Linked DNA regions of Homo sapiens. The protein of the gene in region 3 purifies or fractionates together with the protein of the main gene of each other region. This does not show direct contact. Each region holds a gene or a part of one and is shown on either strand. Other genes may lie near its edges.

The links. Proteins that work in one complex are often made in the same cells at the same time.
Region 1: the proteins of PCDHB11 (region 3) and PDZD8 purify together in Homo sapiens (affinity purification with mass spectrometry; 2 studies listed by BioGRID and IntAct, with this or other methods). This does not show direct contact.
Region 2: the proteins of PCDHB11 (region 3) and EMILIN2 purify together in Homo sapiens (affinity purification with mass spectrometry; 2 studies listed by BioGRID and IntAct, with this or other methods). This does not show direct contact.
Region 4: the proteins of PCDHB11 (region 3) and XRCC1 purify together in Homo sapiens (affinity purification with mass spectrometry; 2 studies listed by BioGRID and IntAct, with this or other methods). This does not show direct contact.

What each region holds. Positions count from the first base shown.
Region 1 is NC_000010.11:117,288,441-117,291,940, forward strand, and holds part of PDZD8 (PDZ domain-containing protein 8), read right to left. Parts: intron 1,909-3,500; coding exon 1,746-1,908; intron 1-1,745. UniProt on the Homo sapiens protein: Molecular tethering protein that connects endoplasmic reticulum and mitochondria membranes. PDZD8-dependent endoplasmic reticulum-mitochondria membrane tethering is essential for endoplasmic reticulum-mitochondria Ca(2+) transfer.
Region 2 is NC_000018.10:2,853,506-2,857,005, reverse strand, and holds part of EMILIN2 (EMILIN-2 precursor), read right to left. Parts: intron 1-3,500. UniProt on the Homo sapiens protein: May be responsible for anchoring smooth muscle cells to elastic fibers, and may be involved not only in the formation of the elastic fiber, but also in the processes that regulate vessel assembly. Has cell adhesive capacity.
Region 3 is NC_000005.10:141,198,488-141,202,426, forward strand, and holds the start of PCDHB11 (protocadherin beta-11 precursor), read left to right. Parts: upstream 1-1,139; 5' UTR 1,140-1,287; coding exon 1,288-3,681; 3' UTR 3,682-3,939. UniProt on the Homo sapiens protein: Potential calcium-dependent cell-adhesion protein. May be involved in the establishment and maintenance of specific neuronal connections in the brain.
Region 4 is NC_000019.10:43,548,028-43,551,527, reverse strand, and holds part of XRCC1 (DNA repair protein XRCC1), read left to right. Parts: intron 1-3,500. UniProt on the Homo sapiens protein: Scaffold protein involved in DNA single-strand break repair by mediating the assembly of DNA break repair protein complexes. Negatively regulates ADP-ribosyltransferase activity of PARP1 during base-excision repair in order to prevent excessive PARP1 activity.

The sequences.
Region 1 (3,500 bases), on a different chromosome or scaffold from region 3:
ATGTTCCAAGGTTTTTCTTTTTTTTAAAACAATGAATGTGTATTGTATCTGCCCTTCATCTTAATACATATTATTATTATTATTTGAGATGGAGTTTCGCTCTTGTTGCCCAGGCTGGAGTGCAATGGTATGATCTCAGCTCACTGCAACCTCTGCCTCCCAGGTTCAAGCAATTCTCCTGCCTCAGCCTCCTGAGTAGCTGGGATTACAGGCGCCTGCCACCATGCCCAGCTAATTTTCATATTTTCAGTAGAGATGGGTTTCACCATGTTGGCCAGGCTGGTCTCGAACTCCTGACCTCAGGTGATCCACCCGCCTCGGCCTCCCAAAGTGCTGGGATTACAGGCATGAGCCACTGAGCCCGGCCTGTTGTTATTGTAATTAACAAATGTTAGATGTCAAGGGATGACTTTTGCTTTTTCACTCTGTATACATTTATATCGCTTAGGTTAATTAATTTATTTTTGATAATAGGTATTTACTACTTGTGTAATTGAAACACAACCCCCAAAAAAGACCGAAAAAATTAATTTTATCCTGTAGCTAAAACCAAAATATTAAATGATATTAATATAATGAATGATGTCTATTTTATGCCTCCCTAAGTGTTTATGCATAAGCATCATCATTTGGGAGGAGTCTGTGAGAAATGAAGAATCTTGGGCCTCACTACAGGTCTCCTGATTCAGAATGCACATTTTAACATCAGGTCTGGGTGACTGGCATACATGGGAAAGTCTGAGAAGCACTGCTTATGCCATGATCAGAGATTCCCATGTGAAAATATTGACTTAATTGGGCTCCCAGATATGCAACTAAATAATTTTCATTATTTTATTGTCAAGGTGGATTTGAATCAAAGGCAGAGTTTCTTTGACATGTAACCAAGGACAACTGCACCTTGATTTGGGAACTGTTCTAACTTATTTATTGTCTAAGCTGTGAAAGAAAATATCACATTGCCCTTTTCAGATCAACTGTGACCAACCATATGTTCAAGAAATCTCTCAACAAGCCTAGAATAGATGGGACAGGTACTACAAAGGTTGAAAAGGCTTGGACTTTCCCCTCACTGCTGTGCACAGTGAGTCCTACTGCTTAGACATTTATATACAAGCAAATAACCTGCTATCTTCAGAGAGTTTTTACTGTTAACAATCCAAGTGATAGGAAGGCATGTAAGTGACACATTTTTCCACCAGTGATTTGGGCTGAATTCTGAGCAACAACATACTAACAAATGGCTGGCCATTTAGATGACACAGGATCACAGGACAGTTCAGATGTGCCCTCCTGGAAAAGGAATGTTGGTTCTTCTGCTCATCATCTAGTGCTAAGTGATGGGGGCAGTAGTGCTAATACTACCAATTTTAGGTTCAGAGTAGCAATGGTGGTAGTCGTACAGAAAGATAACCTGTTTATTTGCCCTTACTTTCACATTCAAGAAAAAATAAATAGAGTAGTAGAAGGTGGGAAGGGAAGGATTAGAGTGGTTATATAAAAGTGGTCTAAACAAAGTATTTTAAAGATTTATACACTAGAACTAAAATGGCATGTATGTTTTAAATGTATTTTGAAGGCCTCCTTTGAATTTTTATTTATAATAAAGTTTATTACTTTATTTCCATTATAAAAGTGACATATGCATATTATAGAAATAAGGAAAAAGGAAGAAAGGAAAAACCTCACACCTACTTTGTAGTTTATCTGTAAAGGTAAAGTATAATGCATATTAGCATAATTACCTCCAATGGCGATAAGTCGATCTCCCCGCTGAAGATCTGCAATTGCAGCAGGCGAGTTTGGAGCCACAGTTTCAATGATGACGTGCCCAGCATACCCATCAGTTGACTGGACAAGACGAAGTGTAAGTCCAACACTTTGTAAATTTCCTTTTATTAATTCAACCTTTGATAAAGGGGAAAAAAATGAAAACTGATTCAATGGATTCCTAGTAATAGAGGAAAAAAACAGTAACAGACTGTTATGTGCAGAGAGCACCATGGCTGATGCTGACTTTTCTATCATGGCAAATAAAGGAAGGAGAAAATCTTTACTGTAACAATATAAATTAACTATCCTTAGGCTACACATTTAAATCATCAAAAAAATTAAACACTTTATCTTCAATGTGTTTTATTATTACTCCTTGCTCCATGCTCATTGTAGAAAATTGGGAAATAAACAGAAAGGCAAAATAAAAAGAAAACCATTCCTAATTATACAATCTAGAACTATTCTATATATTTTCTAATATATATTTAACACAAAATTGAGATTTGTCTCAATAATACTGAGACATAGTAGTCAATACAATTATAATCATGAATATAATTCTGAATCTTGCTTTTTTCAAATATAATGAAAATGATCTATGTCATTCATAATATGTGCTTTGGAAACTCCATTTTGTATGGTGTATCCTTTTTTTTTTTTTTTTTTTTTTTGAGACAGGGTCTCACTCTGTCACCTAGGCTGGAATGCAGTGGCACAATCCTGGCTCACTGCAACCTCCACCTCCCAGGCGCAAGTGATTCTCTCACCTCAGCCTCCCAAGCAGCTGGGACTACAGGCGTGCACCACTACGCCTGGCAAGTTTTTGTATTTTTTTGTGTAGAGATCGGGTTTCACCACTGTTGCCCAGGCTGGTCTCAAACTTCTGGGCTCAAGTGATCCGCCCACCTCAGCCTCCCAAAGTGCTAGGATTAAAGGCGTGAGCCATCCCACCCGGCCAGTGTATTCTTCAAGTTTCTTTTTTGGGAATAGGCAAAGGAAAAGAGTTTACATTTATACTTTATTAAGAGTTATCGGCCGGGCACAGTGGTTCACGCCTGTAATCCCAGCACTTGGGAGGCCGAGGTGGGCGGATCAGGAGGTCAGGAGATTAAGACAATCCTGGCTAACACGGTGAAACCCCGTCTCTACTAAAAATACAAAAAATTAGCCAGGCGTGGTGGCAGTGCCTGTAGTCCCAGCTACTCGGGAGCCTGAGGCAGGAGAATGGCATGAACCCGGGAGGCAGAGGTTGAAGTGAGCTGAGATCACACCACTGCACTCCAGCCCGGGCAACAAAGCGAGACTCCACCTCAGAAAAAAAAAAAGAGTTATCATGTGGTGGGGATGATGGGGATGGTGGTGCACACCTGTAATCGCAGCTACTAAGGAGGGCTGAGGTGGGAGGACCATTTGAGCCCAGGAGTTCAAGACCAACCTGGGCAACATGGTGAGACCCCATCTTTATTTAAAAAAAAAAAGTTACATTGTTAATGAGATGTCCTATTCTAACCCATCAAGATCATTTTGTTTTCTAAATAAACCTGCCATCCAATTTTCAGGAATGTGGATACTAGATTAACATCATCTGTGAATTAACAACAACATCATCATGCTATGTGTCCTCATTCAAACAACTGATTTAAAAAAAAAAAACAGGCAGAGTGCTACATCCCAGCTGTTGACAAGGATTCAATTAGTGTTTATGGCGCTCAATTACAAATCAG
Region 2 (3,500 bases), on a different chromosome or scaffold from region 3:
ATTTGAATGCTCCCTACTTTGTTTCAGCCCTCATCACCATTTTAAAACAGGAAGGAAAGAAGAAAACTTACTGGCATGTTTAGTTTTAGTCATTTCATTATTTTCCCTTCAGTGTGAACTGCTGTCATGTTGAAAAATAAGGGGCTCCTCCCTCGATTCTCCCAGGAAAATGGTTCTTTGTAAGGAGAAATCATGCTCAGCTGTACCATGTTATCAAGTGGTTTGTTGTTATTTTTAAGCCCAGAAAACTACTTCATCAAGGATGGAAGTAGTTAACGCTGAGCAGTAAAGAAGTCACGCGGCCAATGATAAATCAGAACATTTGTGTGGGAGACTAGAAGGAACCTCACCACTGGTACGGTTTCCCCGCTTTTGATTTTTAAAGACAGGATGTAAAGTTCTGTGTAACTGTTGGATGCGGCACCTACTTCATTATGTACACGCAGCACATGTTAGTAACAACAATATTAGGCACACGAGGAAGAGGATTTTTTTCTAAAAGAATTCAAGGAACACATTAGGGGCGGTGGGATAGATCACCTGGGGATTGGCACTAGTTTACCACCACTCACAGCAACATCCACCATCTAGCTAACCTTTCTTTACTGACCTACTCCAGGCACACAGACACCTGCAGAACCAGTAAGAAATACCCACAGGCTACTTCAGCACTGACTTTGACCATAATCACTTATGTGCATTTCCCCAAAGAGACTGCACTGCTGGCTCGGCTTCCAGTGCAATTTCTAAGAATTTCACTTAATTTTTTTACACTTAAATTTTATTTTATTTTTTAGAGAGGGGGGTCTCACTATGTTGCCCAGGCTGGATTCAAACTCCTTGACTCAAGCGATCCTCCCGCCTCAGCCTCCCGAGTAGCTGGAATTACAGGAACATACTACCGTGCCCGGCTGAGCTTCACTTAAAGTTCATCTTAGGCAAGCCAGCATCATTATTATCTTAATTCACTGAATTTAACGATTTCAACCGTGAGCATTTTAGCCTTTCTCCAATGTGTCCGTAAGCATTAACTTCAAACCCAAAGTCCTCAAAGATAAAATCACCTGTGAGGCAATAACATTCCAAACCGACAAACAATGAAAACGGTGAGTGTTCACCAGACGTGCCTGCTGGGTATGCAGTACGTTAGTGTGACAGCGCAATTTTTAAAAGTTCTGTCAGCTGTGTTCCCGCACTGGGGCCTCCTCCCCACAACCCTGTCATGTAGACGTGAGGAAAGTGTGCCTCAGACGGGCTAAGTGACTCGCCTGTGATCACACAGCTTGGTGGTGGGAGATGTCAGGCTGTAGGACAACTCTTCTGTCTCCTCTTCCGAAGCACGTCAGCCACCCACCCAACCTGGATGGAGTTCCCACCCACTTGCCGTTCTCTGCAGCCTGGCCCCACCTGCCTCCCCTTTTCCGGCTACCTCAGGATTTTAACTCAAATACCACGTGCCACCGTGGGTGGAACACATCAACAGAGGAAGACCAGTTACGGAGCTTAATTAAGACAAGTTCTAACAAAAAGCAGGCTGCTTTTCGTAAGGCCATTACCCCTATTTGAATGCTATTCACTGTTGTGTAAGACGAAGGTAGAAAGTGTAGCCCCTCAGCATGAAGTTCTTTTTCCAAGGCCCCAGTCTCGGCCCTGCCTAGTCTCCTGGCTGAACTTGTGGTAAGAATAAAATAATGGTGTGGAAATGTTCTGGAAATGCCGAAGGGCCCTGCAAGCATGGCATCTCCTCCACTGGGAACCTAGGAAGGAGACAGGAACAAGAGAAATAAGAAACCTGAAAGGAAGGTCTGGAGATTCTAGGGAGCAGCCCCAAGGGGCCCATAAGGAATGGAAACCCAAAGAAAGAAACTCAAAATAGCAACAGTCTGCAGCTCTCGAGGGCTGGGCGCCTGGGATTCCAGCCCTCCCGTGCAGGAGTCTCTGACACGAGCTCAGTCTTCCTCAGCTGACTCCAAGTTACCTCCGATGCCAAGGAACAAGCCTCCTAACAGCCAATTGATGGCGAAACTTTTGTTTAAAAGCTGAAGGAAAGAAAATTCCCCCAAAGCTATACACAAAAGGTACTTTTTGAACTGAAAGTTATTCTGTTCCTGGAGATGTAGAAAACAGAAAACTGGCTCTGGAAGATGTAAGCCCTCATTTTCTTTCCCCCGATCCCTGCAGCCTTACATGTTCTGTTCTGGGTTTTTTTGTTTGTTTTGTTTTTGACTCTGTCATCCACGCCTCAGTGCAGTACTGCAATCATGGCTCACTGCAGCCTTCAACTCCCAGGCTCAAGCAATCCTCCCGCCTCAGCCTCTCCAGTAGCTGGGACTACAGGCACGTAGCACCATACCCAGCTAGTTTATTCTATTTTTTGTAAAGACAAGGTCTCACTATGTTAATCAGGCTGGTCTTGAACTCCTGGGTTCAAGCGATCCTCTTGCCTCAGCCTCCCAAAGTGCTGGAATTATAAGCATGAGCCACCACGCCCAGCCAAATGTTCTGTGTGTGTGTGTGTTTTAAGCCACATTTCCTGGCTGAGGTTACTCCCTAATAAGACAAATTTTCTGCCAACTGAACAACCATCTGCTCCCCTCGGAACCTGAGGAGGATTAGAGGTGTCCTGAACTCCACGGAACTCAACACCTGCTGCAAATTCCTGGCAGGCCTTATCTCAGCAGCACAGGCTCTGTGTGTTGGCCCCACCCAGATCCCTCCCCCGACTGGTAAGATCTTTTTAGAAAAAGAGCTAATAGGAAAAATTCCACCAAGATACAACACAGGCCTCGAGGGGCTGAGGGGGGAGGTGGCCAGATGCTGATAAGCCCAAGTCAGTGTGTGGTGTCAGAAAGAGAAAACTCTGGGCCCTACAGAAACTCAGCCCTGAGTTGGGAGGCAAAGTGAACTCAGAGGGAATAATCCTGCCTCACCTCTGGGGTCCTTGGATGTCTTCACCAACAATGCAGGCTATCTGTGGACCAGACACCTCCCAAAGCCCCCAATACTAAAACCATCAGGCTGAGCAGGAGGTGATGGGACAATTTGGAAGCATGAAAGAAAACAACGCCAGTCCAATAAAGAGAAGAAACACGGTGCTGTTTTCTACCAGCCGTACGTCCAAACACTACCAATGGGTATTGGAGGCTGTAAGAAATGTCAGGCCCTTCCCTCCTGCCATTCCACCCTGACAGGGAGGCTGGCAATGCAGCACCCGCTGCGGTAGGCATCACACATGCACCCTCAGGGTGCTCAGCCCGGCTGTGGATTGAGACCTCCAGGGGCTGCCAGGTGTGGAGCGGGAGGAGTGCGAGGCTTGAAAATAACAGGCCTGGGTTTGAAGGCAGGCTCTGCTGCTTCCTAACTACTTGCCCTCCTGTAAAATGGGGGTAGTGACCCCAGAGGGTTGCTATAAGAATGGAAAACAATGAACATGGCAGGGCTCGTCACATTCTCACGATGCACTTTAAGGAAATATTCCCACTGCGGTCAGCCTCAATCCC
Region 3 (3,939 bases):
CATTATTGAGAGTACTTTGAGATGTCTAACAGTGGATACCATTGGTAGTTTCCAAGCACCTATTCCAACTATCTCCCTCATTATGCCATGCACTTTGGCTAGGACTGAAACCACCTCAAGTTTAAGGGGCAATCTCTGCCTGGATTAAAACAAAGGGTCAAAGATGGAGTCTTTAGATTCTGGGACTATAATCTCTACCTTTAATCCTATACATCTTGAGACACTGATTTCTTCAGTAACAGGCTGAAGTGCTCTCAGTTGGTCTAATCAGAATGAAGGCTAAGATTTTGTTCTATTATTGAGGAAGAAAATATCTCTCATTCTGTCTTCTTGAGCTGAAAAACAAAGCAGATAGCCATAGATGTTGCTGGAATAAATCTTGGGAAACTGAGGGAGGGCAGTCTTAGAAATAAGCCTGCTTTAAATGAAACTAACATGCTTGTGCTTGTGTATTTATTATTTTTTGAGAAGCTGGAACTAAATCAAGGATTCTCATAATGTGTTCTACTCCCAATATCTTACTTTACTTTCTAGCAGTTCACAATTCCTTGCTACCAAGGAAATCTATATAAATGCCTTCTTGTGCTATCATAACTATCAAAGTATGTCCCATCTCATGGTTAATCCAGTTTCATATCCTCTGAGAGGACTTCTAAAATGACCCATGTATAGTTTGCCTTTTCATTACCACCTAAGGAAAGTCAAGTAGTGATAGAATTTTGTACAGCTTAAAAATATTATGGTTGTTTTATGTTTCCAGTCTTCTCAGAAAGATTACAAACCACTGGGAGCCAGGAATCACATCTTGTATTTCTGTATTCACCACAACTAAGCACGTTTGGTTGTATGGAGAAGGGGGAAAGATAAATGCTTTAAGATGAATATTAACAGCATATCAAACTAAAGAGAATATGAAATAATTATTACAGAACGTGCAATATATTTGTAATCACTTGAACACAATGAATAAAACAATATTTGTTTCCGGAGGACATATAAGTGAATGGAATTTAGGTAGCTTTCACCAAACTGTGAAAATCTATGGAGACACTTGGTGGCGCTGCAGGATAACATCGTGAAAAATATATTCACTGGATGGCGTTGTGAACACTGATATCCAGTGCACACAGAGAATCAGAAGACAGAAACAACAAGCCTTCAAGAGGGTGACCTGGAAACCATTCAACAGGGTTAAAATCCTTAGACCACAGAGGATTTGGTGGACAAGTCAGAGACGCGTTCCGCAGAGCTGAAGCCTTTCTTCAAGAAGCCTACAAGAAAGGAACTATGGAGAACCAAGGGACACGCACTCAGCAGATAAGGCAAGTCCTGCTTCTCTTTGTTTTGCTCGGAATGTCTCAGGCGGGCTCTGAAACCTGGAGCTTTTCTGTGGCAGAAGAAATGCAGAGCGGGAGTTTTGTAGGCAATCTGGCAAAGGACCTGGGGCTGAAGGTGAGAGAACTGTCCTCACGGGGGGCTCGGGTGGTCTCTAATGATAAGAAACAGCGTTTGCAGCTGGACATAAACACTGGGGATTTGCTCTTAAGTGAAACACTAGACAGGGAGGAGCTCTGCGGTTCCATCGAGCCTTGCGTGCTACATTTGCAGGTGTTAATGCAAAACCCCACGCAGTTTTTACAAATTGAGCTTCAGGTCAGGGATATAAATGATCACTCTCCCATCTTCTCGGAAAAACAAATGCTCCTAGAAATCCCAGAGAACAGTCCCGTTGGTGCTGTGTTCTTACTAGAAAGTGCGAAGGATTTAGATGTAGGAATCAATGCTGTAAAAAGCTACACAATAAGCCCCAACTCTCATTTTCACATTAAAATGAGAGTCATTCCAGACAATAGGAAATACCCCGAGTTAGTTCTGGACAAGGCGCTGGATTATGAAGAGCTCCCGGAGCTCAGTTTCATCCTCTCTGCTCTGGATGGTGGGTCCCCTCCCAGGTCTGGAACTGCCTTGGTCAGGGTGGTGGTTGTGGACATTAATGACAACTCCCCTGAATTTGAGCAGGCTTTTTATGAGGTGAAGATTCGGGAGAATAGCATCCTTGGCTCGCTGATTTTGATTGTCTCAGCTTGGGATTTAGACTCTGGAACAAATGGTGAAATATGCTATACCTTTTCCCATGCCTCAGAAGATATTCGCAAGACATTTGAAATTAATCAAAAGTCTGGAGAAATTACTTTAAGAGCACCTCTGGATTTTGAAACGATTGAGTCATACTCAATAATCATTCAAGCCACAGATGGGGGAGGACTTTTTGGAAAATCTACAGTCATAATTCACGTGATAGATGTAAATGACAATGCTCCTGAAATCACTGTGTCATCAATTACCAGTCCAATCCCAGAAAATACGCCAGAGACCGTGGTTATGGTTTTTAGTATCCAAGATATAGACTCTGGGGACAACGGAAGAATTGTTTGTTCCATTCCGGAAGACCTCCCATTCGTGCTAAAATCTTCAGTTGAGAATTACTACACGTTGGAAACAGAGAGACCACTGGACAGAGAGAGCACAGCCGAGTACAATATCACCATCACCGTCACCGACTTGGGGATACCCAGGCTGAAAACCGAGCACAACACAACTGTGTTGGTCTCTGACGTCAATGACAACGCCCCCACCTTCACCCAAACCTCCTACACCCTGTTCGTCCGCGAGAACAACAGCCCCGCCCTGCACATCGGCAGTGTCAGCGCTACAGACAGAGACTCAGGCACCAACGCCCAGGTCAACTACTCGCTACTCCCGCCCCAGGACCTGCACCTGCCCCTCGCCTCCCTGGTCTCCATCAACACAGACAACGGCCACCTGTTCGCCCTCAGGTCGCTGGACTACGAGGCCCTGCAGGCTTTCGACTTCCGCGTGGGCGCCACAGACCGCGGCTCCCCGGCTTTGAGCAGCGAGGCGCTGGTGCGCGTGCTGGTGCTGGACGCCAACGACAACTCGCCCTTCGTGCTGTACCCGCTGCAGAACGGCTCCGCGCCCTGCACCGAGCTGGTGCCCCGGGCGGCCGAGCCGGGCTACCTGGTGACCAAGGTGGTGGCGGTGGACGGCGACTCGGGCCAGAACGCCTGGCTGTCGTACCAGCTGCTCAAGGCCACGGAGCCCGGGCTATTCGGCGTGTGGGCGCACAATGGCGAGGTGCGCACCGCCAGGCTGCTGAGCGAGCGCGACGCGGCCAAGCACAGGCTGGTGGTGCTGGTCAAGGACAATGGCGAGCCTCCGCGCTCGGCCACCGCCACGCTGCAAGTGCTCCTGGTGGACGGCTTCTCCCAGCCCTACCTGCCGCTCCCTGAGGCGGCACCGGCCCAGGCCCAGGCCGACTCGCTCACCGTCTACTTGGTGGTGGCGTTGGCCTCGGTGTCTTCGCTCTTCCTCTTCTCGGTGCTCCTGTTCGTGGCGGTGCGGCTGTGCAGGAGGAGCAGGGCGGCCTCGGTGGGAAGCTGCTCGGTGCCTAAGGGCCCCTTTCCAGGGCATCTGGTGGACGTGAGCGGCACCGGGACCCTTTCCCAGAGCTACCAGTACGAGGTGTGTCTGACGGGAGGTTCCGAGACAAATGAATTCAAGTTCCTAAAACCGGTTATCCCTAATATCCAGGCAAAAGGTCTTGGGAAGAATAGTGAAGAAAACTCCACCTTTCGAAATAGCTTTGGATTTAATTTTTAGTAAGAATGCTATTTACATTTGCATGTACTTTTTTAGTTTTATGTAACCATATCAATATTATTTAGTCTTAAACTAGTTACGTTATTATGCAATACGACTAATTGTATTTTTAATTTTTTCTTTTCTCCCCCAATTTTTTTTTTTTTTTTGAGACCGAGTCTCATTCTGTCGCCCTGGCTGGAGTGCAATGGTGTGATCTCAGCTCACTGCACCCTCCGCCTCTCGGGTTCAAGCAATTCTCCTGCATCAGCCTCCCGA
Region 4 (3,500 bases), on a different chromosome or scaffold from region 3:
CAATGCCAGGAATCTGGAGGGGAGTCAGACTGGGGCCTGCCAGCGGAGAACACAGGTGGTCCCAGCCCAGAGCCAGCAGACTACTGAGAGGAGCGGGGCAGGGGCTGGGGTACTCCAGATGAGGGAAGGAGGACCTGCCTGGGAGGTCACAGAGGGCTCTGTGAAGCCTGCTTATCAGAAAAGGCTGGAGGAGCAGTTTGTGCAAAAACTCAGGGGTGGGAGAACAAGTGTTAGGGTCCATATTCATTCATTCAAAGTGAGTCCCGGTGCAGTGGCTCACGCCTGTAATCCCAGCACTCTGGGAGGCTGAGGCAGGTGGATCACTTGAGGTCAGAAGTTCGAGACCAGCCTGGCCAACATGGTGAAACCCCATCTCTACTAAAAACACAAAAATTAGCTGGGCTTGGTGGCGCACGCCTGTAATCCCAGTTACTCGGAAGGCTGAGGCAGGAGAATCGCTTGAACCTGGAAGCCAAAATCGTGCCACTGCACTCTGGCCTGGGTGACAGAGCGAGACTCCCATCTCAACAAGAAAAAAAAAACCCAAAAACCAAAATGAGTCCCAGAAGCCCCTGCTTGGTGCCAGGCTGGAATGTGCAAGGCTGAGGATCCAGTCATTGAGCCCTGCCCTTGAAGGCTTCTCACTTTGATGAGGGATCAGAATTGTTGTAACAGTGCAGTGGAAGCCCCACAGGGTGGCCCGCAGAGAGCGAGGGGTCTTCAAGGTCCAAGAGAGGTTTTTCAGGCTGAACAGAGGCAGAGAACATGCTGGGCAGAGGAGACAAGGTCAGGTCAGCCTGTTGTCTGCCTGGAGTTGTAGGTGAGGCTGAGCTTACACAGGGGCAAGAAGTGGCAGGAAAAATGGGACTGGGGCATTAGGAACCACAGAAGGCTTTGGACTGAGCAAAGGCTAGCTCATATCTGAGGTCCATGAATTGGAGGGGAGACTGGATTGTACTCCATGGCCTGAGTGTGTTCAGAAGTTAGTTGTACCTGGTGTATTTGAGAAATTATTTGCCTTGGGGGATAGCGAGGCTGTGAGGTGGGTGGGCTCAGGTCAGAAGGGGCTTCCGGAGCCCAGGCTACACACTGGGCTCCATGCAGCTTCACAGAACCCTCATCTGTTATTCAGGAATCCAAACATCTCTAGAAGCTGAAAGTTCTTTTCTAGGTTCAGCACAAACTCATTTCGCTGCAGTCATCCTGAACTAATGTGAGGCTATTTGCGGACTTTTTTTTTTTTATCCCCTTAAGTGTGTCATGGTCTTAACTGCAGAAATATTAGTGGGTTTGATCATGGGGTGCTCCCCCAGGCCCTCCTGGGAGTTTATGTAACAATCTGTATGCCAGCCATTTGCCTCTCTAAAACCTGAAAGATTCAAAATTCTGAAGCCCATCCAGCTCCAGAGGCCTCCTCTTGTGAGCAGAGGGGAGTCACAGAAGGTTTGATGGGGGCAGGGGCAGGCTCTGTTGGGAGGGATGAAGTGTCAAGGGGAGGCTGCAGGTGGGGACTCCTGAGTAGGCTGGGGCCTCAGGAACAGAAGAGGGGATGGGCTGGTGCTATATCTGGGGCAGAAGGAACCAGATTTGGGTTATTATCTGCCTGGGAGAGCTTAAGGAGGGCATGAAAGAAAGGGAAAAAGACAAACAGTGTTGGATTTGCAACTGGTCTTAACAAAAAGAATTCACAAAGCATTTTATATTTTTAAAAATTCTGGCTTGTACTCATTTATAAACTAAAAAAAAATAACTATATGATGCAGGCAACGTGGTGAGACCCCATCCCTACAAAACATGAAAAAAATTATCCAGGTGTGGTGGCACATACCTGTAGTCGTAGATACTTGGGAGGCTGAGGTGGTAGGATCACTTGAGCCCAGGAGGTTCAGGCTGCAATGAGCCATGATTGCACCGCTGCACTCCAGTCTAGGTGGCAAATCAAGACCTTATCTCAAAAATAAAAATTTGGCTGAGTGCAGTGGCTCACGCCTGTAATCCCAGCACTTTGGGAGGCCAAGGTGGGCAGATCACGTGACATCAGGAGTTTGAGACCAGCCTGGCCAACATGGTAAAACCCCATCTGTACCAAAAAATACAAAAATTAGCTGGGCATGGTGGCGCACACCTGTAGCCCCAGCTACTCTAGAGGCTGAGGCAGGAGAATCCCTTGAACCTGGGAGGAAGGGGTTGAAGTGAGTCGAGATCATGCCACTGCACTCCAGCCTGGGGACAGAGCGAGACTCTGTCTCAAAAAATAAAAATAAAATAAAAATTCAACTATAGAAGGAAGACCCCAAGAGGATGACTCTCCATACCTAATAAGCACAAATTTAGTTTTTTTTTTAATCTTTGAATAGAGCACTTTGAAGAAAAAGTTAAGTAAACCTGCTATTGACTGTTAATGAACTACTACATTTTAAATCCTCTGAATCTCCTGTAGGCACCGTTTTATGAGTGTGACTTACCTAAACAGCATTTCACCAGCTTGAAAACAACCAAATTAAATGCAGAAGGGTCTTAACATGTATGTCTCAGAAAAATGGAGCTAATACATTCATTTGTGTCTGCATACCTTCCCTGTGGCTTAGGGCAGATTAAATAATCTCTCTGTGCCTTAGTCTCCTCACCTGTAAAATGGGGCCAAAAATAGGACCTACCCCAGGATTCAGTGACTCAGTATTTGTCACGTGCTACCTGGCATGTAGGAAGTCCCATGTAAGTGTCAACCTGCTACTGTTGTGTTTTTTTTTTTTTTTTTTTTGATCATTCTTGGGTGTTTCTCACAGAGGGGGATTTGGCAGGGTCATAGGACAATAGTGAAGGGAAGGTCAGCAGATAAACAAGTGAACAAAGGTCTCTGGCTTTCCTAGGCAGAGGACCCTGCGGCCTTCCGCAGTGTTTGTGTCCCTGGGTACTTGAGATTAGGGAGTGGTGATGACTCTTAATGAGCATGCTGCCTTCAAGCATCTGTTTAACAAAGCACATCTTGCACCGCCCTTAATCCATTTAACCCTGAGTGGACACAACACATGTTTCAGAGAGCACAGGGTTGAGGGTAAGGTCATAGATTAACAGCATCCCAAGGCAGAAGAATTTTTCTTAGTACAGAACAAAATGAAGTCTCCCATGTCTACTTCTTTCTACACAGACACAGCAACAATCTGATTTCTCTATCTTTTCCCCACCTTTCCCCCTTTTCTATTCCACAAAACCGCCATCGTCATCATGGCCCGTTCTCAATGAGCTGTTGGGTACACCTCCCAGACGGGGTGGTGGCCAGGCAGAGGGGCTCCTCACTTCCCAGAAGGGGCGGCCGGGCAGAGGCGCCCCCCACCTCCCGGACGGGGCGGCGGCCGGGCGGAGGCGCCCCCCACCTCCCTCCTGGAGGGGCGGCTGGCCGGGCGGGGGCTGACCCCCCCACCTCCCTCCCGGATGGGGCGGCTGGCCCCCCACCTCCCCCCCGACGGGGCGGCTGGCCCCCCACCTCCCTCCCGGACGGG